4 linked regions of the Homo sapiens genome follow. The protein of the gene in region 1 purifies or fractionates together with the protein of each later gene. This does not show direct contact. Each region holds a gene or a part of one and is shown on either strand. Other genes may lie near its edges.

The links.
Region 2: the proteins of PEX39 (region 1) and ACAA1 purify together in Homo sapiens (affinity purification with mass spectrometry; 3 studies listed by BioGRID and IntAct, with this or other methods). This does not show direct contact.
Region 3: the proteins of PEX39 (region 1) and PHYH purify together in Homo sapiens (affinity purification with mass spectrometry; 2 studies listed by BioGRID and IntAct, with this or other methods). This does not show direct contact.
Region 4: the proteins of PEX39 (region 1) and PEX7 purify together in Homo sapiens (affinity purification with mass spectrometry; 3 studies listed by BioGRID and IntAct, with this or other methods). This does not show direct contact.

The regions. Positions count from the first base shown.
Region 1 is NC_000006.12:42,889,474-42,895,827, forward strand, and holds PEX39 (peroxisomal biogenesis factor 39), read right to left. Parts: upstream 1,349-6,354; 5' UTR 1,316-1,348; coding exon 1,010-1,315; 3' UTR 792-1,009; downstream 1-791. UniProt on the Homo sapiens protein: May be a peroxin involved in the PTS2-mediated protein import pathway.
Region 2 is NC_000003.12:38,126,944-38,134,959, forward strand, and holds part of ACAA1 (3-ketoacyl-CoA thiolase, peroxisomal), read right to left. Parts: intron 7,067-8,016; coding exon 7,009-7,066; intron 6,949-7,008; exon of another isoform or gene 6,548-6,948; intron 5,063-6,547; coding exon 4,983-5,062; intron 4,696-4,982; coding exon 4,653-4,695; intron 2,446-4,652; coding exon 2,347-2,445; intron 924-2,346; coding exon 843-923; intron 1-842. UniProt on the Homo sapiens protein: Responsible for the thiolytic cleavage of straight chain 3-keto fatty acyl-CoAs (3-oxoacyl-CoAs). Plays an important role in fatty acid peroxisomal beta-oxidation. Catalyzes the cleavage of short, medium, long, and very long straight chain 3-oxoacyl-CoAs.
Region 3 is NC_000010.11:13,283,065-13,291,080, forward strand, and holds part of PHYH (phytanoyl-CoA dioxygenase, peroxisomal isoform a precursor), read right to left. Parts: intron 5,478-8,016; coding exon 5,296-5,477; intron 776-5,295; coding exon 626-775; intron 1-625. UniProt on the Homo sapiens protein: Catalyzes the 2-hydroxylation of not only racemic phytanoyl-CoA and the isomers of 3-methylhexadecanoyl-CoA, but also a variety of other mono-branched 3-methylacyl-CoA esters (with a chain length of at least seven carbon atoms) and straight-chain acyl-CoA esters (with a chain length longer than four carbon atoms).
Region 4 is NC_000006.12:136,825,151-136,833,166, reverse strand, and holds part of PEX7 (peroxisomal biogenesis factor 7), read right to left. Parts: intron 7,954-8,016; coding exon 7,896-7,953; intron 6,849-7,895; coding exon 6,698-6,848; intron 1-6,697. UniProt on the Homo sapiens protein: Receptor required for the peroxisomal import of proteins containing a C-terminal PTS2-type peroxisomal targeting signal. Specifically binds to cargo proteins containing a PTS2 peroxisomal targeting signal in the cytosol.

The sequences.
Region 1 (6,354 bases):
AGGTAATTAGATTGGTTCTCTCCAGAGGTAACCTGCCAAGAAGAGATGCTATAGATGTTACTCCTATACTGTAAAACATTGTGAAATCAGATTACTTTAAAATGATGTATTACAAAGTTATGCAAAAAAGCAGTTGTGACTATGGAAGCCCAAGGCTTATATCCCAGCTCTGTCTTACACTAAATATGGGTACAGTGTTTCCACTCTGTCCATAAAATGGGAGCTAATATTCTCCAACCTGTGTGCCTGACATGATGGTTAAAGGGATTAAACAAAACAATAGTTTGTAATTTATTCTGTCAGAGCAAACTGCTGGTAAATAAAAGGGACTAAGTTGACGAAAAATAAATTTTAAAAAACCTAATAAAACAAGTTTGTAATTTATAATTGTATACAAATAAAAGATGTTACAAAAATTGCGCACTTATATGTATGTACCATGACATAACTAATTCGTTGAACAAGTTGTGAGACAATCCTTTCTGAGAAAAGGTAGACCTGTTACATCGTCTGTGGGTTAGGGTCATGTCAGCACGTACCAGGTACATTCTAGCTTTTGTAGAGAAAGTAAAATCTAGTGTTGAGTATGTAGGCACTGAGCCAGGTGGCCTGCTTAACATAAAAGGACTGATTTCAGGGTGGCTGTGGGAGCCTTTCTAATGCTCTAATTCTCTAGCCCCTTGCCTGATCCAGCTGATTCCAAGAGCCAAGATTTTAGTCTTTCTTGGTTGGCTTTTTTAAATGCTTTGGGCTTTCCTTTAATGTATCTTCAAAATCATTCTGGGGCCAAGTTACATCATAAAACATTTTATTACATATAAGGACTGAAACAGGATTTTTCTTAACTGTAACATGGTCCACAAATGTAAATGCAAAACCCCCATGGTGGTTGCAGGAGCAAGTCTAGTTGAGACAGGTCAGGACGAAAGCATAAAAGATGAGTAACTGAATGGCATCCCGGGTCCTGTAGCCACGCCCTCCAGATCGCCGCCGCAAAGGACCTGGAACCTCAGGGGCCCACTGTATGCCATGAAGAAGGCGCAGTCGCTGCCTCAACCAAGCCAGGCTCCGCCGGGGCCGTTCCTATCCTGAGGGTCGGAGGGGGAAGGGACTCAGCCAAAGCCGCGGCCTCCCAGGGCTTGGGCCTCCGCGGCAGCCGGGACGCTGTGGGTTCGCCGTGGATCGCCGCGATGTGGCGTTTCTCCAGGCCCGGGAGTTCCTGGCCCTGCTGGACCAGCTGCAGGAGCTGCGCCAGGGTAACCGAAGCTGAGGCAGAGGCCGGGGCCGAGCATTGGGGACTGCGGGGACGCTCCATGTCGGGTCGCGAATCCTGACCGGCGTGTAATGCAGAGAAGCGAGCACTTCCGGGCCGAATGGGTGCAACCACCATGGGGGAGGTGGGGAAAGGAAAGGGAGGCTGTAGACCGTACCAAGCCGGCCCAGAACTGGGGGAGCACTTGACAACTCTGACCAGCTCCCTGCAGAAACGCTTTAGAAGCGTCCACGATTTAGCCAAACCCAGAGTGCCCAACGGACGCGCCAAAGAAGAAAAACGGACGGACGTGCCAAAACTTGAAGGCTAGCACAGGACAGAACAAGCCTGCGGACGCGCCGCTGCGGGCAAAAAGACCCATACATACATAAGCACCGCGCACATGCCCATTTTCATGCACACCCCCGGGCGCGCGTACAAGGATTCAGATACAACGCATGGCGGGGGATAATCCCCATACTAGGCTCCGCAGCACGGGACAAAGCATAACTGTAGAGTTGTTCCCAGAGGCCTCAGGAGTGACACCGCCACCAAGCCACGCTACTCTCTTAGTTGTTATTATTGTTTTGTGTTGTTTTAGACGGAGTCTCACTCTGTTGCCCAGGCCGGAGTGCAGCGATGCGATCTCAGCGCACTGCAACCTCCGCCTCCTGGTTCAAGCGATCCACAGGGTCCCTAGTGCCTCAGCCTCCCTAGTAGCTGGTGTATGCCACCAAGCCCAGCTAATTTTTGTATTTTTAGTAGAAACAGGGTTTCACCATGTTGGCTAGGCTAGTCTCGAACTCCTGACCTTAAGTGATGCACCCGCCTCAGCTTTCCAAAGTGCGGGGATTACAGGTGTGAGCCACCGCACCCAGCCAGAGCCTCACCACTTTCTTCACACTTCCTGCCATCCTTCAATTCTTGGTGGTCCCAGAGAAGATCGAAGGTGAAAGCAGGTCAGATGTGCTACAGCTGCTCTGACTGCTCGGAAAGTCAGGTTTTTAAATTATCAAAAGTGGCCGGGCACGGTGGCTCACACTTGTAATCCCAGCACTTTGGGAGGTGGAGGCAGGTGGATCTCAAGGTCAGGAGTTTGAGACCAGCCTGACCAACATGGGGCAACCCCCGTCTCTACTAAAAATACAAAAATTAGCTGGGTGTGGTGGCATGCACCTGTAATCCCAGCTACTCAGGAGGCTGAGGCAGGAGAATCGCTTGAACCTGGGAGGCAGAAGTTGCAGTGAGCTGAGATTGCAGCACTGCACTCTACCCTCGGTGACACAGCAAAACTCTGTCTCAAAAAAAAAAAAAAAAAGTATCAAAAGCTAGACTGATCTGGTGAACATCACCTTAATCAAAGAATCAAAGCTTAATGGCCAGGCGTGGTGGCTCACACCTGTAATCCCAGCACTTTGGGAGGCTGAGGTGGGCAGGTCACCTGAGATCAGGAGTTTGAGACCAGCCTGGCCAACATGGCGAAACCCCATCTCTACTAAAAATACAAAAAAATTAGCCAGGCATAGTGGTGCGCACCTGTAATCCCACCTACTTGGGAGGCTGAGGCAGAAGAATTGCTTGAACCTAGGAGGCAGGGAGGTTGCAGTGAGATGAGATCACACCACTGCACTCCAGCCTGGGCAACAGAGTGAGACTCAGTCTCAAAAAAAAAAAAAAAAAAAAAGCTTAATAGGACAAACTGGCCTTGTGTGCCTTCTGATGTGATGCACTGGGAAGGACACACACACGGGGAGTACATTTCTGTAGTAGTCCTCCCCAAAATGCCCAAAAAATGTTCACTCACCACCTAGTCTTGAGGAAATAGAGATCAAAGTGAGAGAGATTCTGCAAAATGATTGGTCTGGACACTTTACAGATGTCGTTGTTATAAAACATTAAGAAAAAGCTAAGAACTACCCCAGATTAAAGGAGACATAAAAAATAAATACAGGCCAGACACAGTGGCTCATGCCTTTAATCCCAGCACTTTGGGAGGCTGAGGTCGGTGGATTGCTTGAACTCAGGAATTCAAGACCAGCCTGGGCAATATAGCAAAACCCCATCTCTACTAAAAAATACAAAAAAAAAAAATTGCTGAACATGGTGGTGGACACCTGTAGTCCCAGCTATTCTGGAGGCAGTGGTCGAAGAATCGCTTGAACCCGGGTAGGTGGAGGTTGCACTGAGCTGTGATTGCCAGCAACTTCCGACTGGGAGACAGAGTGAAACTCTGTCTCCAAAAATAAAATAAAATATAAATAAATAAATAAATTCAATGAGTGATCCTGGATTAGATGCAAGATTGTGTAGGGGAGATCAGCTCTAAAGGACATTTTACCCTTGGGGAAATTTGAATATGATCCATATATTAGATGACAACGATATATCAATGTTAAATTTATCAAGTGTGATAATTGTGGTTATGTGTGGGAATTACCTTGTTCATAGCAAATACATTCTGAAGTATGTAGAGGTGAAGTGTCATGATGACAGAAAGAAAGCAAATGTGGCAAAATTGCTAAGAATTAGTGAATCCACGTGAGGGTTTGAAACTTGTCAAAATAAAAAGTTGGGGTAGGCCCGGTGCAGTGGCTCACGCCTATAATCCCAGCACTTTGGGAGTGGTCAAGGCAGGAGGATCACTTGAACCCAGGAGTTCAAGACTAACCTGGGCAACATAGTGAGACCCCCTCCAAAAACAAAAATTGGCTGGATGTGGTGGCACACACCAGTAGTTCCAGCTACTTGGAAGGCTGAGGCTGGAGTATCACTTGAGCTCAGGAGGTTGAGGCTGCAGTGAGCCAAGATTGTTCCACTGCACTCTAGCCTGAGCAACAGAGACTCTGTTAAAAAAAAAAAAATTGGGGTAGGGGGCACTTGGTAAGAGCTTGAGAAGCCAGTCTGGAGGAAACTGACCATATTGAATGTTGTATAATAAAGAATTTTGAAGGGGTGGCCTGCCCCTCCACACCTGCGGGTATTTCTCGTCAGGTGGGACGAGGGACTAAAAAAAGAAATAAGACACAGAGACAAAGTATAGAGAAAGAACACTGGGCCCAGGAGACCAGCGCTCAGCGTACGGAGGACCTGCACTGGCCCCAGTCTCTGAGTTCCCTCAGCATTTACTGATTATTATTTTCACTGTCTCAGCAAGGGGAATGCAGCAGGAGAACAGGGTGATAGCGGGGAGAAGGTCAGCAAGAAAACATGTGAGCAAAGGAATCTGTGTCACAAATAAGTTCAAGGGAAGGTACTATGCCTGGATGTGCACATAGGCCAGATATATGCTTCTCTCCACCCAAACATCTCAGTGTAGTAAAGAATAACACAGCAGTATTGCCACCAGCATATCTCGCCTCCAGCCACAGGGCGGTTTTCTCCTATCTCAGAATAGAACGAATGTACAATCGGGTATTATACTGAGACATTCCGTTCTCAGGGGCATGCAGGAGACAGAGGCCTTCCTCTTATCTCAACCGCAAGAGGCCTTCCTCTTTTACTAATCCTCCTCAGCACAGACCCTTCACGGGTGTCGGGCTGGGGGATGGTCAGGTCTTTCCCGTCCCACGAGGCCATACCTCAGGCTGTCTCAGTGGGGAGAAACCTTGGACAATACCTGGCTTTCCTGGGCAGAGGTCCCTGTGGCTTTCTGCAGTGCATTGTGCCCCTGGTTAATCGAGAATGGAGAATGGCGATGACTTTTACCAAGCATACTGCCTGTAAACATTTTGTTAACAAGGCACATCCTGCACAGCCCTAGATCCCTTAAACCTTGATTCCATACAACACATATTTCCGTGAGCACAAGGTTGGGGCTAAAGTTACATATTAACAGCATCTCAAGGCAAAACAATTGTTCAGGGTACAGATCAAAATGGAGTTTCTTATGTCTTCCTTTTCTATGTAGACACAGTAACAGTCGGATCTCTCTTTTCCCTACATATCCCCCTTTTTGACAAAACTGCCATCGTCGTTATGGCCCGTTCTTGCTGGTCGCTGTCTCTTCGGAGCTGGTGGATACACCTGTGGACTAACAACAGACAGAACAGGCATACAAGGATTAATATGAAATTTACAATAGTGGAACTTCTGATGGTTTTTAACCAAGTGACAGTGTTAAGATTTGTGAGGCCATCAGTAGCTTTCACGATTGCCTCAGTTCCCAAATTTAAATGGGCTTTCGATGCCTCAAAATTTTGTTATTTTAATTTTGAAATATCTAAAGTAAGATTATCTTCTCTTCCCTGTAGATGGCATCTAACCATGTCCCAGTGATGCTCAGACTCATTATAGGCTTGGGGTGTAATACAAAAATCTGACATATTCCAGTCACACTGTAACTGAAAAAGATATTCCAAGCTCATGAGCCTATTTCCCAGCCAAATGACAGTTTGTCTAAGATCATTAATTTCGTTTGCCAATTTTTGATTTATTTGGGTCTGAGAATTCCACAATTTTGAGGAATTCTTTCGCCAATCATTTACATATTCTGCAGTTTGAACAGAGGAGTGTAAAGCAATTCCAGCAGCTGCAGCAGTAGCTGTGACTGCAATAAGGCCCATAATCACTGCAATCAAAGTAAAAATCTTTTGGATCTAGTTAGAATTCCTTTTAATACTTCCGTTAAAATATGGAAGATGGCGAAGCCTCCCACTGTCGGTCCATGGACACAGGGATCCGCACACCTTCTCTTGCCCTCACTAGCAGAATATGGCGCTGCCAATTAAAAGTCAAATCAATGCAAGTAAACAATCTACAGTTTTCACAGGTTATAGTTTGGGAATCTGGTTTAATAACTATGTTTTCTATAACTAGCATATAAGGGGGTTTTACACAACTTTGTAAAGGAATTGTCAGATTGGAATTTAGGTTGATAGTATAATATGGCTTACGATTTCTTGTTTCTGTAGCTTGATTTCCAGACCAAATTCTAATGTAGTGCGAGGCCACAGTAAGCTTCCATAATTTTGGATGTTTAGGACCAGTAACAGGACTAACTAACTTTGGTCGAGGTGATGAAATTCCCTTTTCACCCCATTTCCAGGGATAGGGTGATTCTAGCCTTCTATAAACCTGGTCCAGCCTTTCAATTAAATCACTAT
Region 2 (8,016 bases), on another chromosome or scaffold:
CTCCACTTAGAGCCCTTTGTCCAAGAGGGATTAAGCCTGCTTGATTCTCTCTGCTAAACTGAGGATGGAACCCCAGAAATATCTGTGCTGGGTTCTGCTAACTTTTCTGCTCAAACTCAACAGTTCGATGTCATCTATTCCCCAGTTTCCGCCTATTTAAAGTGACATATACTAAACTACTCATGTATTTTTGTATTTAAGCAATTTTAAAGCACAAGGTATTTAAGGGTGACCCTTGCAAATATGTGCAGCATGTAAGTGCCCAGGGACATTCAAGTGGAAGGAATCTAAGGCTTCTAACACATTTTCAAATGGTTATGTGACCCAAAGTGGCTAAGAATCACTGCCTCAGGGAAGCCCACCTGGCCCAGATACCACTCCCTGCTTTTGCTTTCCTCTCTGGACAGCCGGGACTTGCCAATCTTAGCCTGCCTGAGCCCCTGGGGTTTCTCTGATATCGTCCTCAGTTCTTGCCTCAGGATGCTGCCACAGACCCAGCATGGTCCAGAAGCTAGGATGCCAGAGTCCCTAACATTGCTGGCCCCACACTCCAGGCTACAATGTCCAGTCCCCAAACCGCAGCCAGAAAATAACAGAGGGGGAAACTGAGGCCTAGCTAGGGCAAAGTCAGGGTGAACAGACAGTAATAGAACCTGGAAGTACTACCAACTCACAGTGGCCCTGACACTTCCTACTTCCCACCCCCAACCTGGGTGGCACAAGGCCTGGAAAGCACTCACTGCCCAGCAGTAACCACGAAATGGTGCCACTTCAGACCACTTAGATAGACTCAAAACCTCACTCTCCAGCCCTTTAAACATTCCTCCCCAATCAGCACTCACTTCTGCTGGGAAGCCAGGGCAAAGGTATCCTGCTTCTCCCGTGAAATGCCAAACCGCTCAGCCACATTCTCAGAGGTTATCCTAGAACACAAACAGCAGATAGTGTGGGCATTGGTCTGACAGCCTAGAGGAAGGGACCAGGCTGTAGAGCTGTGCTTGGAACTTTGGGTTCCCAAGGCTGTAGGCAGGACAGGATGTAAGGGCCAGTCCATGCCACAGACAGTAGTGATGACTCAGGATATGGTACAGCCTGCCCTGAAAGTGGATATAAAGGCACAGATAGGGAAGTCAGCAATGCTGGCCAGATCCTGAGAAGCTCATACACCAAAGAGACTTTCTTCAAGAGAGGGCAGCCTGCATGGGGGCAGTTGCAGAAAGGAGTTTGTTCCCTGGGTGAGCTGCCTCAGCGCAGGGTAGAAAAGGAGCAGGGGAGGGCCTGGGTGGGGGCACTAGTTGGCTACTCCTGGCCAGCTTCTCCTATGCCTCAAGGAAGACTGCTGCAATGTAGGGAGATGAGGACTCCCAAATCTCCTCTGGAAAGGCCAAACCTAAGCTTCCTGGTCACCTTGGCTGGGGTCTATGCTTATCCTGAGAACCTAGAGCCACAGCTAGGCCTTCCAGCCTGGGCTTCTGGCTTTATAGGCTTCCCTTGGAGATACAGTATGTGAAAGAAGCCATGGCACTGCCCCTCTCCAAGCCTCAGTCTCCTCATATGTCTAGTGGATCCAGGACTCCTGGCCCAAAGACCCTGGGGATGGCCCAGAGGCTCAGAGAAGCTAAAGTGTTCCATACAAATGCCACATACTTTTCTTTTTTTCTTTTTTGAGACAGAGTCTCCCTCTGTCACCCAGGCTGGAGTGCAGTGGCACGATCTCAGCTCACTGCAACCTCTGCCTCCTGGGTTCATGCCATTTTCCTGCCTCAGCCTCCCAAGTAGCTGGGACTACAGGCGCTCACCACCGCGCCCGGCTAATTTTTTGTATTTTCAGTAGAGACAGGGTTTCACTGTGTTAGCCAGGATGGTCTCGATCTCCTGACCTTGTGATCCACCCATCTCGGCCTCCCAAAGTGCTGGGATTACAGGCATGAGCCATCGCACCCGGCCAAATGCCACATACTTTTCTTGTTGCACCTGACAGGGCCCAATTCCCCTCACCAGCATGTTCTGTCGTCACAAGCTTCCCACTGCCTTCTCAACTTTCTAGGCCCCCAAGGCTTTGGAGTGGAGCTACCATTGTCCTTCCTATGACTGAGCACCTCAGTGTGGGAGTGACAAGGTGGGCGATGTTTGGAAACTCGGGGGCACAGAGAGGACCTGGGGCCTTCAGGAAATGGAAGTCAAGGGCAACATCAAGTCTCATCCCCAAAGTCCCTGCGGAGCAGACCATGCCCAAAGGAAGGAGGCCAAGGCTTGGCACCACCAGCCACAGAGATGATAAAAGTTCCTTGGCTCCCTGCCCCAGGCAGAGAGGGCACAAGCACACAGAGCTATGGGAGCACTCACCCCATAGGAATCAGGCAATCTCTGGCCTTCTCCTTCTCCATCAAGCGCGAAGTAATATTTCCAGGGTTCCCTCTGTCAGCCAGGGACATGGACTCCACCCTGGGGAGGAGGAAGAGGAGGAGAAGGTAAGGTGAACTGGGCCCTAGCAGGACTCCTCCAGAGATAGCTGAACACTTGGCAAGTGCTAGGAAATAGCCAGGGAGCCCTAGGAAGACCAGTGGGCCTCTGGGAGTCACAGGCAGGGCACTTGGCCAGCAAGGCCCAGCCACGAGTACTGAGCCCTGTCTCTATTTCGACCCCCACCCCAGGACAGAGCACTGCACAATAAACACTCCTGGGGGCAGGGCTATGCTTCCCTATACACTGCTAAATCAGCCAACTGGCAATTCCAGAGAAAAGCCTTCTGCTGTCAGCCACAGAGGAGGAAACACATCCACAAGCCAGGGCCTGCCCTCAGGGCCCACAAATTCAGAAGGGAGAAGAGACAATTTGAAAGTAACCACAGGCCGGCTGTGGTGGCTCACGCCTGTAATCCCAGCACTTTGGGAGGCCAAGGCGGGCAGATCATGAGGCTAACATGGTGAAACCCCGCCTCTACTAAAAATACAAAACATTAGCCGGGCATGGTGGCAGGCGCCAGGGTGGGAGGCTGAGGCAGGAGAATGGCGTAAACCCAGGAGGCGGAACTTGCAGTGAGATGAGATCGTGTCACTGCACTCCAGCCTGGGCGACAGAGCGAGACTCTGTCTCAAAAACATAAATAAATAAAATAAAAATAAAAGTAACCACAAAGCTGAGCTCAAAGGGCATTCAGACCTGCATAGACAAGGAAGTGCTACGAGCTGAGAGGAAGGAGACGGCAGTGTAGTGTGGTCAAAAAAGGGCTTTGAGGCCATGGGGGACCCTAACACCTCAAGGGATGATAACAGATAACCTTGACTGAGTGCTTTTCACGTGCCCAGCACTATTCTGAATTCTTTTGAGATATTAGAGTGCTTCAGTGTCAGTCACATGACAGACAAATACTCCACAGTGTAAACTGTTGCTATTACTCCATTTATTCTTCTCAACTTCAACAGAGCTGAGCTAGGTATCCCCATTTTATAGATCAGGAGACTGAGGTCTAGAGAGACTGTATAACTTATCCATGGTGACCCAGCCTGGATCCACATTTAGGTAGTCTGGTCCCAGAGCCCACTTCCAACTAGAGTGCCCTGTGTTAAATACTTGCTGATCAAAGTCTATGGAGAACAGTCAGCCTGTGATGTGGGTGTCAGGCCTGGCCCAGATCTTAATATCCTAGTACCATCATCCTTAACCTGCTTGGGAATCAGATACTCTCTAAGAAACTCATAAAAGCTCCAGCCCTTCTCAAGTTATCCATGCCACCTCTCACCCAGTAAGATAGAAGAGCATGAGAGAAATCAAACGGCAGTGGCCTTTGCCCAGCCAAAGTCCTTGCAGAGTGGTCTTTGGCTTTATTTACAACTGTAGACATAGGTCATTACAACTCAGTGACAGCTGCCACAGCCCTGGGACAGGGGCCAGCAATGCGTCCTCTCAAGAAATACCCTAAAGAGGATGTGAAAGGCAGCGGAGGCATGTCAGAACCCTGGGGCTGCTCACCTCCCCCAGCCTGCCAAAGACCTTACTCCCCTGCCCTCCCAGCACCAGATGCCCACCCAAGCCTGGGCACCTGTGCCCTGACCTTCCCTGGAGGCACTGCCAAATACAACTTCTGCAGCTCCATTTGCTGCAGCCAATGATGGAGCCACAGTCTAGGTGAAGGTGACAGTGACCAAACCACCACAGATCTAATTATGTCCCTCATAGCCCATAAGCAGCTGGAAGTTTCCACACTGGTTCCAAGGTGGGGAGACAAAGGGACAGACAGCCTAGTAAAATGAACAAACTAGTTATACAGTAGGCGCTGTCCCTGGCTTTAGGGAACCCAAACTGCAACTTCTCTCTCAGCAGCATCATGAATCAACAAGGGCCCCCAAAGGAAACCCAAATGCTGGATTTTCTCAAAATGTTTTCCCACCTTTTCCAGCCTGAAAGATTTCCAAGAAAGTAAGCTTTTAGAGGCCAATTCCCCTCCCCTGCTAGTGCTGAGAGGTGTGAGTGATTCCTGAGCAGCCAGAGTTGGTAGCCACTCTTAACCTGCATTTGTGAGAACCCACTCGTGGCCAGCTGCCTAAAGGGGATGGGGGGAATCCTGAAATCATGGCCTCTGAGAACTCAGATGAAAATTAGTTTTATTGTCACAAGTTGGTTAATAAGCTCCGGCAGAAAAAAATTCTTACCCACAGGCCATGCCAATGTCATAAGACCCATTTCTGATGCCACCTGTAACAAAAGCATTTCATAAACATCCTTTGCCAGAGTCCACCTGTTCTGGAAGCAGTGGAGCCTCTTCCCCACCTGGTCTCTAGATGGGACTCAGCCCCAGCCTCAGAAATGGAAGACCCAGGAGTGTTCAGAAAAGGCTTTGGGCAGTGGTAGGGGGCGCTCCTGCACTCTTTCTGTGGTTAGAGTCCTCAGAAATGGTAATTATTGCTTGCCCGGCAGACAGCGACTTTGCTGACCCAAACCCACAGGTCCAGGACCAAGGCACCCACCCAGTCATAACTTACCTGCTATGCTGGCCACTGCCTGTAGCCCCGACGAACACTGTCTATTGACAGTGGACAAAGGCACAGTCTCCGGGATGTCACTGAAACAGAAGGTGAGAAAGTAGAATCAGCCCCCAATTCCATGCCAGGCTCTCATGGAAAGCAGTCCTATGCTTCTAACTGCCCCCCTCAAGGGATGTAAAGGGCAGGGGAACAAACCCAGCAGCTCTGCTCCCATGCCAGGCCAGATCCATGGAATGGGGGTGAGCAGCTACTGGGCAGACCCCATCTCTGCAGGCACTTGCTCCCCAGGGCCCCACAAGCACATTCCCTTCTACTCCTATGAGAATCTTCAATCAAAGACCAAGCACAGCCCAAAGGCAAGGGAAGCCTGTTTGGGCCACAGGGATCCTTCTCTCTCTCTCCCTTTGAAGATTCAGAAATGAAAACTGTGTATCTCTGTTTCCCCCAAAAAACAGAGAAAAGGAACTGCTGCTGGGACAGAGCACCAGAGCAAAAGAAATGCCTAAAGTCTGAGGCCAGGGACCACTCGGCCTTACCAGTAATCATATAGCTAACCCTGCATGTTCCCATGGACTCTTGAAAGCCTGATCCCACCTAGACGAAGCACTCTGATGGGCATCATATATTCTAACATCCATTGCTCTGGTAGGTTCCCCAAGACTCTCATACTGGTCTTAGCCCTGGAAGCTAGTAGGGCTTCCCCTCCTGATGTAACCTGCCTTGGCCAACAGTACAAAGCCCTAGGGAAATTTCCAGACCTCCTCAGACCCACAGACTCAGAATCTGAGGGAGTGGAAGCATCCTGGTGATTCTGGTGTGTAGCCAGAGTTGGGAACCTCTGAACTAGTGCCCAGGCCAGGCTCTGCAGAGACTCTCTCAGGGGGATAGCCTCCTGTGCAGCCTGTTTGACCCTTCCAGGGTCCCTTAACTCCCTAGCAGGTAGTTACCATTCCTTCACTCAATCCACCAAGTGTTCACTAAATACCTACTTACCACAAGGCATCACCTGAGGGATGCTGCGATGCTTATAACACTGTGCCCTAGAGGATGCCCAACCAACACACAGAAAATGAATCAACTATCAGAGACTGAAATAATAGGGCAAGAGGGCAAACCACATCACAAGGAAGTATATGGCTACTGCTGGAGAGGAAGGGGCTCTCAATTTCAGCCTGAGAGCCTGGATAACTCATGCCAAAATGGTGAGACTGTGTTTAGGCAGGGTTTGTCTTTCTGTCTAGGGCAGAAAGAGGAGGTAGGGCTAGCACTTCAAGGAGACAGAATGACCATATCAGGGAAGACAGTAGGCCCACAGCCGGCTGAACGAAGAAAAGTCAAGGTGAGTAAGCAGCTAGGAGATGAGGCTGGAAGGTAAGTCTGGAGCCAGATTGTAGGGGGCCTTGAACTACAGGCTGGGCAGTCTAAACCTCTCCCAGTTCCTAGAGGGTTGTTTTCCTGTTCCTTCACTAGCTAATGTTCCTATTTATTTATTTATGCATCTAGAAGTACAAAGCCAAGCAGTTCTTAAATCTACACATGAAAATAATTTAAGCACTCTTTACCCTGCAGGCGCTTAAAGGAAAGTTGACCAGGTCTCCTCCTGAGGGTCCTCCTTCCCCATGGTTCTGCCCTATCCCAAAGTCTCTGCTAGTGGGATATGACTGGAGTTCTCAGCTCAACTAGTAAAAAGGCTGAAAGTCACTTTTCAGCATTCTTACTTGATTACTCACCTGACAAATGAGGACAGAGTCCACACTCACAAAAGGCAAATGACAACCTGGCTTTGGCTAAAAATCAAGCTACAGAGAACTTCTGCTCCAGTCCCAAAGGTTTTGTGTATCGTGGCTCAGCACTTCAAAGTAGGGGAGAGGTTGAGTCCACAAGAGCAGGGAGCCAAGGACTCTCGTTGCCTCATTCTGGTGTCCAACCTTATCCTCCCCAACCTGCACACTGAGTTTCCTGGGGCCTGGGCCCAGTAAAGTGTCAAAATGGCCAACCCATGGCTAGAACTAGAAAAGTTTACCTCAGAAACTGGGCGATTCGGGCCATGATTGCCCCGGCCCCAGGCTGCAGCACATTTCCTGTGGACAACAAACTTTCATTCAGTGCCAGGCGGTGGTGTTCTGGGCACTAAAGTATAGCTGTGAAAACCAGAGATGAGGCATTCCAGATCTTTCTTCGGGACACTAGCCCTTGGCAGGCTCACTTGCAACTCTGGAACATCAGGGTTTGGGGCAGGGAGAGCCAGCCATACAACAGCTTGTCCTGGTCATCCACCAGCTCCTGTCCCTGAGGGTCCCACGCTCACTTGCCCATGCACCCAGCTTTTCCAAATCAGCACAGATGGGCAGGTTGTCTGCCCTTAAAAGTGAAATGGGAGTTTCTGAAAATGCACATCTCCCCAGGTATCCTCCTGTGAGCCCTGCTGTCACCCCAGAGAGGTGGAACAGTGATTGCCGACCTAGGGGTGGCATCCGCTGGATAAGACTCTTGCCATATCATATTGCTGTATTTCAAGGTGAGGGGTGGAATAGAGGGCTGGACTGAAGATTGTGGGGAAAAGAAAGATCAGATTGTTACCGTGTGTATGTAGAAAAGGAAGACATAAGAAACTCCATGTTGATCTGTACAAAGAAAAATTGTTTCTGCTTTGAGATGCTGTTAATCTGTAACTTTAGCCCCAACTCTGTGCTCACAAAAACATGTGCTATATTGAATCAAGGTTTAAGGGATTTAGGGCTGTGCAGGATGTGCCTTGTCAACATATGTTTGCAGACAGTATGCTTGGTAAAAGTCATCGTCATTCTCCATTCTCTATTAACCAGGGACATGATGCACTGTGGAAAGCCGCAGGGACCTCTGCCCAAGAAAGCCTGGGTATTTGTCCAAGGTTTCCCCCCACTGAGACAGCCTGAGATATGGCCTCGTGGGAAGGGAAAGACCTTACTGTCCCCCAGCCCGACACCTGTAAAGGGTCTGTGCTGAGGAGGATTAGTAAAAGAGGAAGGCCTCTATTTCCCGCACATCCCTG
Region 3 (8,016 bases), on another chromosome or scaffold:
CCCGCCTCAGCCTCCGGAAGTGCTGGAATTACAGGCATGAGCCACTGCACCTGGCTTTCATAATCAATTTTTTTTTTTTTTTTTGAGACGGAGTCTCGCTGTCGCCCAGGCTGGAGTGCAGTGGCGCGATCTCGGCTCACTGCAGACTCCACCCCCTGGGGTTCACGCCATTCTCCTGCCTCAGCCTCCCGAGTAGCTGGGACTACAGGCGCCCGCCACCTCGCCCAGCTAATTTTTTGTATTTTTAGTAGAGATGGGGTTTCACTGTGTTAGCCAGGATAGTCTCGATCTCCTGACCTCGTGATCCACCCGCCTTGGCCTCCCAAAGTGCTGGGATTATAGGCATGAGCCACCGCGCCCGGCCCATAATCAATATTGACAAGGTTAGGATCCTGAGGTCACCTGGCTTCTTACTGATAAGAGCACAGAAAGCCCAAGGTAAGCAAATATATTTCCTGGTAAATAAACTGGACTAAAGTCCAGGTTGGTTAAAAGCCACAAATCTTTAAAATGTTAATGCAATTTAATTAAAATTTTATTCAATTAATTTGAATTCAATGAATTGAATACAATTTTTGTTTCTAACCCACACTTCTGCAGCAGGTGCAGCAATGTGAATGCTTACCTTCCGGAATCCCTGGGTTTTATTCTGACCAGATCCGTGGATGAGCAAAGGATGGAAGAAAACAGTGTCGCCCTTCTCCATCACCAGGTGCACCCGGGCCTTGTTTTCCTCGTAGTCCTGGATCCCGTGGAACATTTTGTTAACTCCCCCCTAGAACAAGAGGCAAGTGAAGTCTACATTTGAGGGAGTACCATAATTAAAAACATTGTCAATGGTTCATCAGGGAAAGCAAACATCAGGGAAAGAAAGCATTTCTCTCTCCCAAGAGAAATAAATGTCTAAATTAAATGCTTACATTTTTTTCAGTATACAAAAGCCTCTCAGATATCTGGTTTTTAAGAGTCACATTTTGGCCGGGCATGGTGGTTCATGCCTGTAATCCCATCTCTTTGGGAGGCCAAGTTGGGAGAATTGCTTATGCTCAGGAGTTTGAGATCAGCCTGGGCAACATGGCAAAACCCCATCTCTACAAAAACTGCAAAAATTAGCTGGGCGTGGTGGTGCCAGCCTGTGGTCCCAGCTACTCAGGAGGCTGAGGTGGGAGGATCGATTGAGCCGGGAGGGGGAGGTTCCAGTGAGCCATGATCACACCACTGCCCTCCAGCCTGGACAACAGAGCAAGACTCTGTCTCGAAAAATAATGGTAATAAAAAAAAAGAAGTCACATGTTGATATTAAAATCACTGATTTTTTGGAGGAAATGAACAGTGTGGAATTTCCACCTGCCCTTCATGACTGCATTATACATGAAGATCTAGCTTAGCTTTGCCTTTTGTGGTTAATGCAGGCAACCACCTATCTCTTGGGCATTTCCAGCCTGAAACTGTGAGTGTTCCCAGTGTGTTCTCCTCCTCGCCCAGAACTTTAAATAAATCCTTCATCTCTTACTCAGGAGTGTCTCTGAGAAGCTATTTCCCCAAAATAGGGGGGAGAAAATGCTCAATTTTTCTGAGCTCAAAGGCACTTATGTTACATCCAGAATAATGAAAGAATAGTAAATTAAAACACTGTGTTTGTTTGTAACTATTTCCCAAATTAGTTGCTACTTTAGGTAATGCGGTTATGTCTTTATTAAAGAAATTGACATGAGAAGCACCTTAGGAGTCAGGGTAAGGGAAGCAGCCCATTCCTCTTCCTAAGAGCATCCCCAGTTCCTTCTGGGAATGACGACATCCCTCTTAGACAGTGCTGAGACTCTGACCCAGAGCCCTTCTCTCCTGGCCAGGGTGAATGTGTGACCCACACTAAGCTAATCATACCTCCCACTCTGCATCTGAGCAGGGTATCTGAGACTCCACACGCTCTGGAAGCCCTGCAAACTTTTCCCTTTGCCTTCTGTCAGCCAAAGCCCACTGCAGTTGCATGCACCAAACTTTAAACCTTGGCTTCACTGATGAGTTTCACATTAAATGGTTTTATATCAGGATCCAGACACTCACATATTTTCATTTGACACTAATTATTGGTGCAAGAAATCTGAGACGTTCTATTATTATTATTATTGTTATTACTGAGATGGAGTCTTGCTCTGTCGCCCAGGCTGGAGTGCAGTGGTGCGATCTCAGCTCACTGCAACCTCCATCTCCCAGGTTCAGGCAATTCTCCTACCTCAGCCTCCCGAATAGCTGGGAGTACAGGCACACACCACCATGCCTGGCTAATTTTTGTATTTTTAGTAGAAATAGGGCTTCACTATCTTGGCCATGCTGGTCTCAAACTCCTGACCTCAAGTGATCCACCCGCCACGGCCTCCCAAAGTGTTAAGATTATAGGCGTGAGCCACTGTGTCCAGACGAGTTAGGAGTTCCTAAAACCATGTTCCTCATTTCCTATCGAACTACAACTCATTCTCCCTGCTTTAACAATGGGGGCTCTTTCCATTCGCAGCATCATGGGATTCCAGGATCTTTTCTTTTCTTTTTTTTTTTTTTTTGAGATGGAGTCTTGCTTTGTTGCCCAGGCTGGAATGCAGTGGCGCGATCTCAGCTCACTGCAAACTCCACCTCCTGGGTTCAAGCTATTCTCCTGCCTCAGCCTCCTGAGTAGCTGGGACTACAGGCGCACGCCACCACACCAGGCTGATTTTGTATTTTTAGTAGAGACAGGGTTGCTCCATGTTGGTCAGGCTGGTCTCGAACTCCTGACCTCAAGTGATCCGCCCACCTCAGCCTCCCTAAGTGCTAGGATTACAGGCATGAGCCACTGCGCCCAGCCCAGGATCTTTTCTTTTTCTTTTGATACGGGAACTTGCTCTGTCACCCAGGCTGGAGTGCAGTGGCACCAACATAGCCCACTGCAGCCTCGAATTCCTGGGCTCAAGTAATCCTCCTGCCTCAGCCTCTGGAATAGCTGGGACTACATGCATGCGCCACCATGCCCAGCTAATTATTATTATTATTATTTTTAGAAATGAGACCTCACCGTGTTGCCCAGGCTGGTCCTGAACTCCTGGGCTCAAGCGATCCTCCCACTTTGGCTCCCACAGGGTCTTTTCACCTTAGACCTAACGCGTTAATAGTCATCTCTCTGGTTTCTTTGCTTCTAGATGCCTATACCTCTAACGCGTCCTGCACCAGAACGTGACATTACTGTCCTTGAAGAGCCGATTTGATCCCATCACTCATGAGCTCAAATGCATTTAACATTTCCAAGCATCAGCAGCTGAATGGATGAACAAACCATGGTTCACGGTGCAGCCATGCAATGGAATACTACTCAGCAAGGGAAGGGAAAGAACTACTGTTGGCCAGGCGCGGTGAGCCCAGCACTTTGGGAGGCCGAGGCAGGCAGATCACGAAGTCAGGAGATCGAGACCATCCTGGCCAACATAGTGAAAACTCGTCTCTACTAAAAATATAAAAATTAGCTGAGCATGGTGGCTTGTGCCTGTAGTCCCAGCTACTCGGGAGGCTGAGGCAGGAAAATTGCTGGAACAAGGGAGTCGGAGGTTGCAGTGAGCCAAGATCGTGCCACTGCACTCCAGCCTGGTGACAGAGTGAGACTCTGTCTCAAAAAAAAAAAAAAAAACAACAAAAAACTACTATCATACACAACAGCATCAATGAACCTCAAAATCACTACACTGAGTGAAGGAAGCCAGAACGGGACAAAAAAATCTATACTATGTGATTACATGTCTATGACATTTTAGAAAATGCAAACTAACCTGCAGTAACAGAAAGCAGCTCAGTGGTTGCCTAGAGCAGGGAGAAGGATGGAGTATCTTGATTGTGGTGATGATTTCACAGGTATGTGTGTGTGGAAAATGATCAAATTATACATGCAAAATATGTACAATTTACATGACAATTATACCTCAATGAAACTGTTTATTTGTTTAATTGTTTGTTTTTTAATTAAAAGCTCTTCAGCCAGGTGTGGTGGCTCACGCCTGTAATCCTAGCACTTTGGGAGGCAGAGGTGGGCGGATCACGAGTTAAAGAGATCAGGACCATCCTGGCCAACATAGTGAAATCCCGTCTCTACTAAAAATACAAAAATTAGCTGGGTGTGGTGGTGCGCGCCTATAATCCCAGCTACTCGGGAGTCTGAGGCAGGAGAATCACCTGAACCCAGGAGGCAGAGGTTGCAGTGAGCCGAGAACGTGCCATTACACTCTAGCCTGGTGACAGAGTGAGACTCCTCAAAAACAAAACAAAACAAAACACAACAAAAAAACAAAAAGGGTCTTCGATCTTCCTAAAAGTTTGAACTAAAAAGTTCCCATTCTTCCCCCAAATAAACTGCAGACTTGTTAGTAAAACAGTCTTTTCTAATCTGGTCCTAATGTACATTTTTGGGCTCACCTCCTCTGCTGCTCCCCAAAATACACCCCCAGCGCCCAGCCCATCTAGACTGCAAGCTCCCTGGGTCTTTCCTGTTCTTTGGTCAAGTTCAGGCTTGCCCTTGACCTTGTGCCTTCCTATATCGACTCTTCCCTATGGGACATTGTACACTGTCCTGCAAGGCTCAGGTCAGACACCAGCCTCCCCAGATCCTTTGCTGGTCTCTGCAGTTGCAAGGAGACAATCTCTCCTTCCTTACTCTGAGAGCCATCAGTTAGTGAGTAAGACTGACTTGGTGTCTACCACACACATCTGGGGTCGAAGGGTTTATGTCTTACCTCTGCAGCTAGGACTTACAATCTCGGATCCTATACAGTACCTACCCAAGCTCCCCACCTTGGCTGGCTTTCAAACACGTGTTAAGGGCAGGTACAGTGGCTCATGCCTTTAATCCCAGCACTTAGGGAGGCCGAGGTGAACAGATCACCTGAGGTCAGGAGTTCAAGACCAGCCTGGCCAACATGGCAAAACCCTGTCTTTACTAAAACCACAAAAATTAGCCGGGCGTGGTGGTGCACACCCGTAGTCCCAGCTACTAGGGCGACTGAGGCGGGAGGATGGCTTGAACCTGGGAGTTGGAGGTTGCAGTGAGTTGAGCAAGACCCTGTCTCAAAAACAAACAAACAAAAAAAGTGTTGAAAATAGGTGTGATGAATGTTTTCTCTGACATCCTTGAACTTTCTCTGATCCTCACTGCAAATCTTAGGACAATGTTTTGCTCAGAAAGGAAATGCCATCTCATTTGTAAACTCTTTAGAGGTACTGATGTGAAACAGAAACTGCGAAGGAGATTCGGATCAAGACTCAGCCGCCGGGCAGACCTACCTCCCACTTGGGGTAATCGTGGGGCTTCAGGGAGCCCTTGTGTGTGCCTGGGAGCACAACCAGACAGCCGTTGTTCCGGCTGATGTGCTCCATCGCCGTCCAGGCGCAAACGATGAGATCGCTGGGCCTGAAGGGGAAATAGTGCAGGTCCTGGTGCAGGGGGTGACGGGACGTCTTCTTGCCTGAAAAGAAAACCTGCTACTAAAGGATACTCGAGGCCGAGTGCAGTGGCTCACGCCTGTAACCCCAGCACTTTGGGATATAAAAATATATCCCAAAGTGGGAGGCTGAGGCAGATGGATGGCTTGAGCCTGGGAGTTCAAAACCATCCCGGGAAACACAGTGAGACTCCGTTTCTACAGAAAACAAAACAACAAAACAAAACAAAACAACAAAAACAACTAGCCGGGTGTGGTGGCATGCACCTGTAGTCACAGCTACTTGGGAGGCTGAGGTGGGAGGATCACCTGAGCCTGGAGGTCGAGGCTGCAGTGAGCTATGATTGCACTGCTGCATTACAGCCTGGGTGACAGAGAGCGAGTCCCTGTCCCCCACCCCCAACCAAAAAAAAAAAAAAAAAAAAAAAAAAGCTGGTCTCAGAATTCTTATCCTTTGCCTGAAAAAACAATGACCTGTCCCCAGAAGAACCAAACAAATGAAATAATGCTAGAGAAAATCAGCCCCGGAGAGATAAACACCAAATTGGAAATCAACACACTGGCTCCACATCTTCAAATCCCGCACTCCCTTCTTCCGGGTTGCTGGTAGCTAAGTACTTATGCACACTATTTTCCAGCAAGCGGTATAACATCCTCATCTCTGTTGTGCTTTATTCTTTGTTGTTATTGTTTTTTGAGACGGAGTCTTGTTCTGCTGCCCAGGCTGGAGTGCAGTGACGCGATCTCGGCTCACTGCAAGCTCCGCCTCCCAGGTTCACGCCATTCTCCTGCCTCAGCCTCCCGAGTAGCTGGGACTACAGGCGCCCGCCACCACGCCCGGCTAATTTTTTGTATTTTTAGTAGAGACGGGGTTTCACTGTGTTAGCCAGGATGGTCTTGATCTCCTGACCTCGTGATCCGCCCGCCTCGGCCTCCCAAAGTGCTGGGATTCCAGGCGTGAGCCACCACGCCCGGCCTTGTGCTTTATTCTTTTGTGACCCTGGATTGGGCACAGTACCTAGCATGCAGTAATGCATGTTCAAAAACCAGTTGCATTAATTACATTGAAGAGAGTGATATGGAGTCAAGTTTGAAATCCCCTTTGAAGTGGCTGATGTCAAAAAAAGTTCTAAGCCACGTGTAGTGGCTCACACCTGTAATCCCAGCACCTTGGGAGGCTGAGGCAGGCAGCTCTCTTGAGGTCAGGAATTTGAGACCAGCCTGGCCAACATGATGAAACCTCGTCTCTACAAAAATACAAAAATTAACTGGGCATGGTGGTGCACACCAGTACTCCCAGCTACTTGGAAGGCTGAGGGCTGAGGCAGGAGAATCGCTTGAACCCAGGAGGCAGCAGGTTGCAGTGAGTCAAGATCGCACCACTGCACTCCAGCCTAGGCGACAGAGTGAGACTCTGTCTCAAAAAAAAAAAAAAAAGAAAAGAAAAAGAAAAAAAAACACACAAAACAGGACGGGCACGGTGGCTCACGCCGGTAATCCCAGCACTTTGGGAGGCTGAGCCGGGTAGATTGCCTGAGGTCAGGAGTTCGAGACCAGCCTGACCAACATGGTGAAACCCTGTCTCTACTAAAAATACCAAAAAAAAAAAAAAAAAAAAAAAAAAAAAATTAGCTGGGTGTGGTGGTGGGCACCTGTAATCCCAGCTATTCAGGAGGATGAGGCAGGAGAATCACTCAAACCCCAGAGGCAGAGGTTGCAGTAAGCCGAGATTGAGCCACTGCACTCCAGCCTGGGCAACAGAGCAAGACTCCATTTCAAAAAAAATAAAAATAAAAAAAGTTATCTAAGAGGTCCTCACCCCCCACAACTATAGTCATTCCATGTCCAGTCGGAGTGCCCATGACCACACTGACATTTTCCCCTGGTTTGCTCCCTGAGTGTGGCTCCCGAACACCTGCTCTCCTCAAGGAGGGAGAGACCTGGTAATGCTAAGCTGCCTTCTATCACATAAACCCCTCCTGCAGATCAGAAGGAAGAAAAGGCAGAAAGGATAGGGGGACTCTCTCATGGCTGATTTTTACTGCAGGCACAGAGGAATTTCCCAGTGTAGTCCAAGTGATCTGCACTACAATCTCTGGACTTGAACTCCTGGGCTCCAGCGATCCTCCCCCCGCAGCCTCCTGAGTAGTTGGGACCACAGGTGCACATCCACGCCCAGCTTGAGGAAGGTTATTAAAATACAGAAACCTGGGTTATATTTCTCAATCAGTCTGTCTGCCAATGAGGTCTTAGATTCTACATTTTAGCAAGCACAAGACATTTTAAAGACAACTATAGGCTGGGCGCGGTGGCTCACACCTGTAATCCCAGCACTTTGGGAGGCCAAGGCAGGTGGATCATCTGAAGTCAGGAGTTCGAGACCAGCCTGACCAACATGGCGAAACCCTGTCTCTACTAAAAGTACAAAAATTAGCCAGGCTTGGTGGCACATGCCTGTAATCCCAGTTACTTGGGAGACTGAGGCAGGAGAATCAGGAATTGTTTGAACCTGGGAGGTGGGGGTTGCAGTGAGCCAAGATCGCGCTATCGCACTCCAGCCTGG
Region 4 (8,016 bases), about 94 Mb from region 1:
AGTCATGCAGAACTGTGAGTCAATTAAGCCTCTTTCCTTTATAAATTACCCAGCCTCAGGTATTTCTTTATAGCAGTGTGAAAAAGGACTAATATAGAGAATTGGTACCAGGATAGTGAGGTACTGCTATAAAGATAATCTGAAAATGTCAAAGCAACTTTGGAACTGGGTAACGGGCAGAGGCTGGAACAGTGTGAGGGCTCAGAAGAAGACAGGAAGATGTGGGAAAGTTTGGAAATTCTTAAAGACTTCTTAAATGGTTCTGAACAAAATGCTAATAGTGATATGAACAATGAAGTTCAGGCTGAGGTGGTCTCAAATAGAGATGACGAACTTACTGGGAACTGGAGTAAAGGTCATTCATGCAATGCTTTAGCAAAGAGACTGGTGGCATTTTGCCCCTGCCCTAGAGATCCGTGGAAGCTTGAATTTGAGAGAGATGATTTAGAGTGTCTGGTGAAAGAGATTTCTAAGCACCAAAGCATTCAAGAAGTGACCCGGTTGTTTCTAAAAGTGTATAGTCACATGCATTCATGAAGAGATTATTTGAATTTGGAACTTATATTTAAAAGGGAAGCACAGCATAAAAGTTCAGAAAATTTGCAACCTAACCATGAGGTAGAAAAGAAAAACCTATTTCTTGGGGGGAAATTCAAACCTGCTGCAGAAATTTGTATAAGTAACAAGGAGCCAAATATTAATAGCCAAAACAATGGGAAAAATGTATCCAAGGCATGTCAGAGACATTTGCAGAAGCCCCTCCCATCACAGGCCCAGCGGCCTAGGAGGGAAAAATGGTTTTGTGGGCCTGAGTGGCCCTGCTGCTCTGTGCAGCCTCAAGACATGGTGCCCTGCATCCAGCTGCTCTAGCTCCAGCCATGGCTAAAAGGAGCCAAGGTACAGCTCAAGCCATTGCTTCTGAGGGTGCAAGCCCTAAACCTTGGCAGCTTCCATGTGGTGTTGGGTCTGTGGGTACACAGAAGACAAGAAGAGTTTAGAAGACAAGAGTTTAACCTCCACCTAAATTTCAGAGGATGTATGGAAACACCTGAATGTCCAGGCAGAAGTCTGCTGCAAGGGAGGAGCCCTCATGGAGAACCTTTGCTAGGGCAGTACAGAAGGAAAATGTGGGGTTGAAGGCCCCACACAGTCCCCACTGGGGCACTGCCTACTGGAGTTGTGAGGAGAGAGCCACTGTCCCCCAGGCCCCAGAAAGGTAGATTCACTGACAGCTTGTATTGTACAGCTGGAAAAGCCACAGGCACTCAATGCCAGCCAGTGAAAGCAGCCATAAGGACTGCACCTTTCAGAGCTACAAGGGTAGAGCTGCCCAAGGCCATGGGAGCCTACCCCTTGGATGTGAGATATGGAGTCAAAGGAGATCATTTCAGAGCTTTAAGATTTAGTAACTGCACTGCTGGGTTTCAGACTTGCATGGGGCCTGTGGCCCCTTTGTTTTGGCCAATTTCTCCCATTTGAAACATTTAGCTAATGCCTATAGCCCTACTGTATCTTAGAAGTAACTAACTTGTTTTTTATTTTATAGGCTCATAGGCAAAAGGGACTTGCCTTGTCTCAGATGAGACTTTGGACTTGGACTTTTGGGTTAATGCTGGAATAAGTTAAGACTTTGGGGGACTGTTGGAAAGTCATGATTGGTTTTGAAATGTGAAAAAGACATGAAATTTGGGAGGCGCCAGGAGTGGAATGATATGGTTTGGCTTTATATCCCCACCCAAATCTCATCTTGAATTGTAATCCCCATGTGTCCAGGGAGGAACCCGGTAGGAAGTGATCGGATCATGGGGGCAGTTTCCCCCATGCTGTTCTTGTGATAGTGAGGGAGTTCTCAAAAGATCTGATGGCTTTAAAAGTGGCAGTTTCCCCTGCTTTCTCTCTCTCTCTTTCTCTCTCTCCTGCTGCCTTGTGAAGAAGGTTATCTACTTCCCCTTCACCTTCTGCCATAATTTTAAGTTTCCTGAGGCCTCCCCAGTCATGTGGAACTGTGAGTCAATTAAACCTCTTTCCTTTATAAATTACCCACTCTCAGGTATTTCTTTATAACAATGTGAAAACAGACTAATACAATACCTATCATTATTGACTTCTCAGCTTCTATCATTATCAAAAAGTAAATAATTGATTCATTTTTTAAAGTAAACAAGATTTTAACTCTTGAAATGTATAAGCAAATACATTTCCTCCATAACAGAATACTAATAGTTGTATACTTAGGTCAAAAATAAGTTTTTATAAGCAATGCTCAAAAACCTCAATGGATCAAATATGTTATAAAAATTCAGCAAATTGATAAACCTTGTTATTTGACTATGAGAACAAATTTTAACTCATTTTTAAATTGTGATAAGCCAACTCATTAGTCTGAAAATTAGAAATTAATATATTACATTGATTTATGTCATCTTTAAAGTCACTTTAACTCACTCTCAGTAGCACAGTGTTTTAAGTCAGAAAGCAGTGAAATAAAATTGTCAATTCACTCTTATTTTTCTATTCTCACTGAACTTTTAAAAATTTTTATTATATATTCAGCAGCATTAGAATAAGCAAAGCCAAAGGCATTTTATGGGACTCAAAAGACATAATGACCTCTGCAGACACCAGTTAAACAATAGACAGAAGAATTTGATTCCTACTTCGATGCTAGGTTTAGCAACCATTCACACAGATAATGTCCATGTTTTTCTTTCTTTTCATTTCACCAAGACCTTCACTCCTCAAAGCCTAAAATATATCTAAATCTTGGATTTCTCTTTTTTGCTTCATCTGACAACTTGAAAATTGACTGTTGGACACATAGCCATCAAGTGGTAAAGTGGGTAACTGGAAAAGTTCTAACTTGTTTTACATTTTTCAAACCCTATTATAATAAGAGCAAATAATAATACTAGCTCATATTTATTCAATGCTGGTCTGTGATACAGACTACTAATAAACTTAGTTTGCAAATAAAAACACTCAAGTTTAGGAAAAATATGTGACATACGCAAGGTCTCACAACAGGTAACTTACAAAGCTGGGATTCAAATCCAAGATTGACTAAAACCATGCTATACGTCTTTATTATATACTCTCTTCCACAGAAGAAAATGACCCATTAGTTGCTCTTCTATTTCACAACACAGCTTCCCTGAACATACTGGTGGAAAAAAAAAAAACAGAAATTGGCTATGTTCATTATCAACTTTTTTTTTTAATAACTTTCTTTTAAGACAGGGTCTCACTCTGTTGTCCAGGCTGGAGTGCAATGGCACGAACTCAGCTCACTGCAACCTCCACCTCCCATGCTCAAATGATTCTTGTGCCTCAGCCACCAAATAGCTGGGACTACAGGTGTGCACCACCACACCCAGCTAATTTTTTTATTTTTAGTAGAGGCGGGGTTTTCGCCATGTTGGCCAGGCTGGTCCCAAACTCCTGGCCTTCAGTGATCTGCCCACCTCGACCTTCCAAAGTGTTAGGATTACAGGCATGACTCACTGCACTCAGCCTCATTTATTAATTTATTCAACAAATATTTACTAGCTCCTTAAAACTCTCATTTGAGCTTAAATCCTTTTAAGTATTTTTGAGTATCTGGCATATGCAATGGACTGAATATATCCCCACAAAACCCACATGTTGAAATCTTAACCCCCCAGTGTAATGGTTTTAGGACGTAGGGCCTCTGGGGGGTAATTAGGTCATGAATGTAGAGCCCTCATGAATGGGATTAGTGCTCTTATAAAAGGGATTTCCCAAACCTCTCTCATTCTCTTTCCACCACCTGCAGATACAATGAAAAGACAGCAGTAGTCTTTGACCTAAAAGAGGGCCCTCATCAGAACCCAAACATGTGGGCACCCTGACCTTGGACTTCCAACCTCCAGAATAGTAAGAAATAAATTTCTGTTCTTTATAAGGCACCCAGTCTATAATACTTTGTTACAGCAGCCTGAACAGACTGAGGCAGAAACTGGTGCCAAGAATTAGGGGTGCTGCTGTAACAAATACCTAAAAAGGTTATCTTCATTTATTTTTCACATAACCAAGCAAAATATGTGAAACAGTAAACTCTGACTGTTGAAGCCATTTAATTGTTTTCTATTACACTAACATTCAAGGCATCCTGATACAAACGCTTACCAAAAAGTGCATTTGAAAAGAAAACGAGGAAGTCTAACTAGAATAGCAGTACGCAAAACAAATTTAAAAAATTAAAAAACAGAAGTGTGTCTTCGGTTCAAGAAATCAGCTGCAAAATCACAGAATGATGTAAAACTGGTTTAATAGCAGTTCAAATAACAAAAGAGGTAAGTGTGTTACTAGCAGACTCAAAGTAACCTAACACTAAGACATGGCTGAGAACAATGTATAGCCACTTTAGGTAATATTATTAGAGCTAGGGGCTCAAGACTATGGTGGTAAAATCTTATAAAGCTTAGCCCTTCATCACATTTCTGGAATAAATTAGGTATATGTTGAAAGGGGAGTTGAAAAACAGGATTATCAAAGGAGGCTATCAGAAGGATGAAAGACGTACAGATCATGTCATCTGAGGACAGGACAATGAAATGACAAGTGCACAGTCTGGAAGAGAGCACGATGGCTATTTTCAAGAGGTTTCCTGGACAAGAGGGGCTGGACCTGGTCTTGCCACTTCAGAGAAAGACACTAAAAGCAGCAGTTGGTTGCTATAGAAGGTAGAGTTGGGATTACAAGAAGCAGTTTCTTAATAATCAGAACAACCTAAAAGTCAAATAAGTTATCTCAAGAGAAAGTGAAATTTACTTTCACTGACAGGAAGTAAAGACTGAGTGAGCATCCATCCAGGATATCCTAGAACAGTATTTTCCAGAGAGTAGTTACACCAGAGATTATTTTAACTGGTACATACATTTATTTTATTCATTACTTACTTATCTCAATGTACACTAAAAACAAATAAATGTACATACTAAAGTAGCCATCAACCCCATTGTTTCATGAATATTACTGTTTTAGGATAAATGAAGCAACGACTTTACTTGATTGAAAGAAAAACATTAAGTCAATATATTGAATTTACCTTAACTAGCTATATTATTTTATGATGTCAGTTATCATCCTTGAATTTATATAGATAATAAAAGGCACCAAAGATTTAAGAAAAAGGAAAAAAAAAACTTCTGAAAAGAAAAATATTTTTTAAAAAAGAAAGAAGGAAAAGAAATACATTATAATACAAGTGGTATAAAAAGATGTCAAACATCACAAAAACTAGCCTGGGCAACATAGCGAAACTCCATCTCTACAAAAAAAAACAACAACAAAAAAACACACACACACAAAAATTGGCTGGGCACGGTGGCTCACGCCTATAATCCCAGCACTTTGGGAGGCCAAGGCAGGTGGATCATGTGAGCCCAGGAGTTCAAGACCAGCCTAGCCAACATGGTGAAACCCGTCTCTACTAAAAATACAAAAATTAGCAGGGCACGGTGGCGCACGTCTGTAATCCCAGCTACTCGGGTGGCTAAGACATGAGAATGGCTTGAGCCCATTCCAGAAGGTGGAGGTTGCAGTAAGCCAAGATTGCACCACTGCACTCTAGCCTGGGCAACAGAGTGAGACCCTGACACACACACACACACACACACACACACACACACACACACACACAAATTCACACAGGTTCCACAAAAGTATCTGAATTTTGGACATACTGTTCTGTAGAGATTCGTGCATTGATTATCCTGAAACTAAAATTTCTCCTTTACCAAAATTGTCTTAATATTCAGTAATTCCCTGAAAACATAGTAATTTACAACTACATTTATTCAAATAGCTATCATAATTAAAATAGAAACTAAAATTTTTCATTATTTCAGTAACAATCTTAGAAATCTTGATTGTCAATAGCTACAGCTATAAAACATCTGGACCCCTCACATAACTAATCTTTACCACAAAAGACTGATATTCTTGCATCTAATAAGCATTTATTGAGGGCCTTCTCGGGCCAGGCACTGTGGTGGACAAAAATTTGAAAGTAGATTAGCAAGTTTTCATCTGAAGGATGTACTGCTCCCTTAAGGAAAATCTTAAAACATTTAAGGTAAAAACACAAAAAGAGGATGTCTTTATGTTCACTGAAAATATACATGTATGTTAGTACAACTGAAGCCCAAACTATTTTCTATGCTATACATACACACACACAAAATCTAGACACATGAACCAGATTTAGATATAAAATCCCTTCAGTAAGTTCTGCCTCATACTCAGTATTTTATGCTCTTGCTCCAATATACTCTGAAACACCTCGGGAATCTCACTGAAGCCCCAAAGGCAATCTTGTGATGTCTATGTGAAAAGTCCACCTACCTCTACCTTAAGGCACCATGTGGCAAGCACATTCTTAGAGCACAAAGAAAGTGATGGGCCTCTCAGGAGGAAATGGTGCCAGAGTACACTGCTGGAGGTGTTCTTTCTGCCTAATGAGAAGACTGACCTTTTCTTTTCTTTCCCCACTCCTTAGGCCAAGAGGTACTTTATGTTTGAATAATCAAATAATAAGTGACATCTAGTATGTATAAGAAATGCTAACGTTTAAACTTGTCCCCTGAAGATATTTCTCCATGTGTCCATCCCCAAATGGATTTCAACCAAAGTCGAAGAAAGAAAAATAATCAGCCCAGAAAGATTTCCCTCCTACCTCCTGAGCGTGTTCTTTATAGACTTGCAGTGGCCCTGCAGCTTTGGCAGTGTCCCAGAGCTGCAGCGAGCCATCGCCACTACAGGTGATGAGGACATGTTCGTTGTTCTCACTCCAAGTCACATCAAACAAACCATCATTCCAGTCAAAGCTACACTAGGAAAAAACAAACAACAAAAAAATACAACACTTACATAGGCAGCTACACAACAAAAAAAATAACAATTATGGTTTTTTTTCTTTCAATTTATCACACATTTTAACACGTATATCTCATGTAATCTGCACAACTACGGGAGTTAAGTAGAGTAGGTACTTGACAAATATGGCAACAGATTCAGAAAGGTTAAAAAAAACAGTCCAGTGGAATGTAGTAGTCCAAAAATGTAATAGTACACAGTATACTGCTCCACATTTTTTTATGTTTAAATTTTATAATTTATGAGTGGACACTAAGAGACAGGCTTCAGATTTGTTTTGTTTTTTATTTGAGAGAAAGAGTCTTGTTCTGTCATCCAGGCTGGAGTGTAGTGGCCCAATCACAGCTCACTACAGCCTTGAACTGGACTCAAGCAATCCTCCCACCTCAGCTTCCCAAGTAGCTGGGACTACGGCCTAAAAATTAAAAAAATTTTTAGGCTGGGCCCAGTGGCTCACGCATATAATACCCACTTTGGGAGGCCAAGGTGGGCAGATCACCTGAGGTCAGGAGTTTGAGACCAGCCTGGCCAAAATGATGAAACCCCATCTCTACTAAAAAATACAAAAATTAGCCGGGTGTGGTGGCGGGCACCTATAATCCCAGCTACTTGGGAGGCTGAGGCAGGAGAATCACTTGAACCCAGGAGGGGAAGACTGCACTGAGCCAAGATGGCGCCACTGTACTCCAGCCTGGGTGACAGAGCCAGACTCTGTGCATAAAAAAAAAAAATTTCTTTTAGAGACGGGGTCCTCCTATGTTGCCCACGAGGCTGGTCTTGAACTCCCGGCCTCAAGTGATCCTTCTGCCTCAGACTTGGGAATAGCTGGGACTACAGGTGCGCACCACCACAATCAGCTAAAAATAAGCTTCATCCTATGCAAACGCCAAGGTTCCTTTTATACTGTATATTAAAACATTAATCAAAGAGTCAAAACCTAATTCTATTAAGGCTTTAATAGCAACAATATATACCTTTAATAATTTCAGCCCCCTTACCTTCTAAAAAGCCTTAGCCCAGCTTCATCTGGATCCAATATTAGTAGGGTTCCACAGCCTAAAGAGAAAAAAAATCAAGGTCATCCCTTTGAACCTGCCAGGGTAACATCGAAAGTCAAGG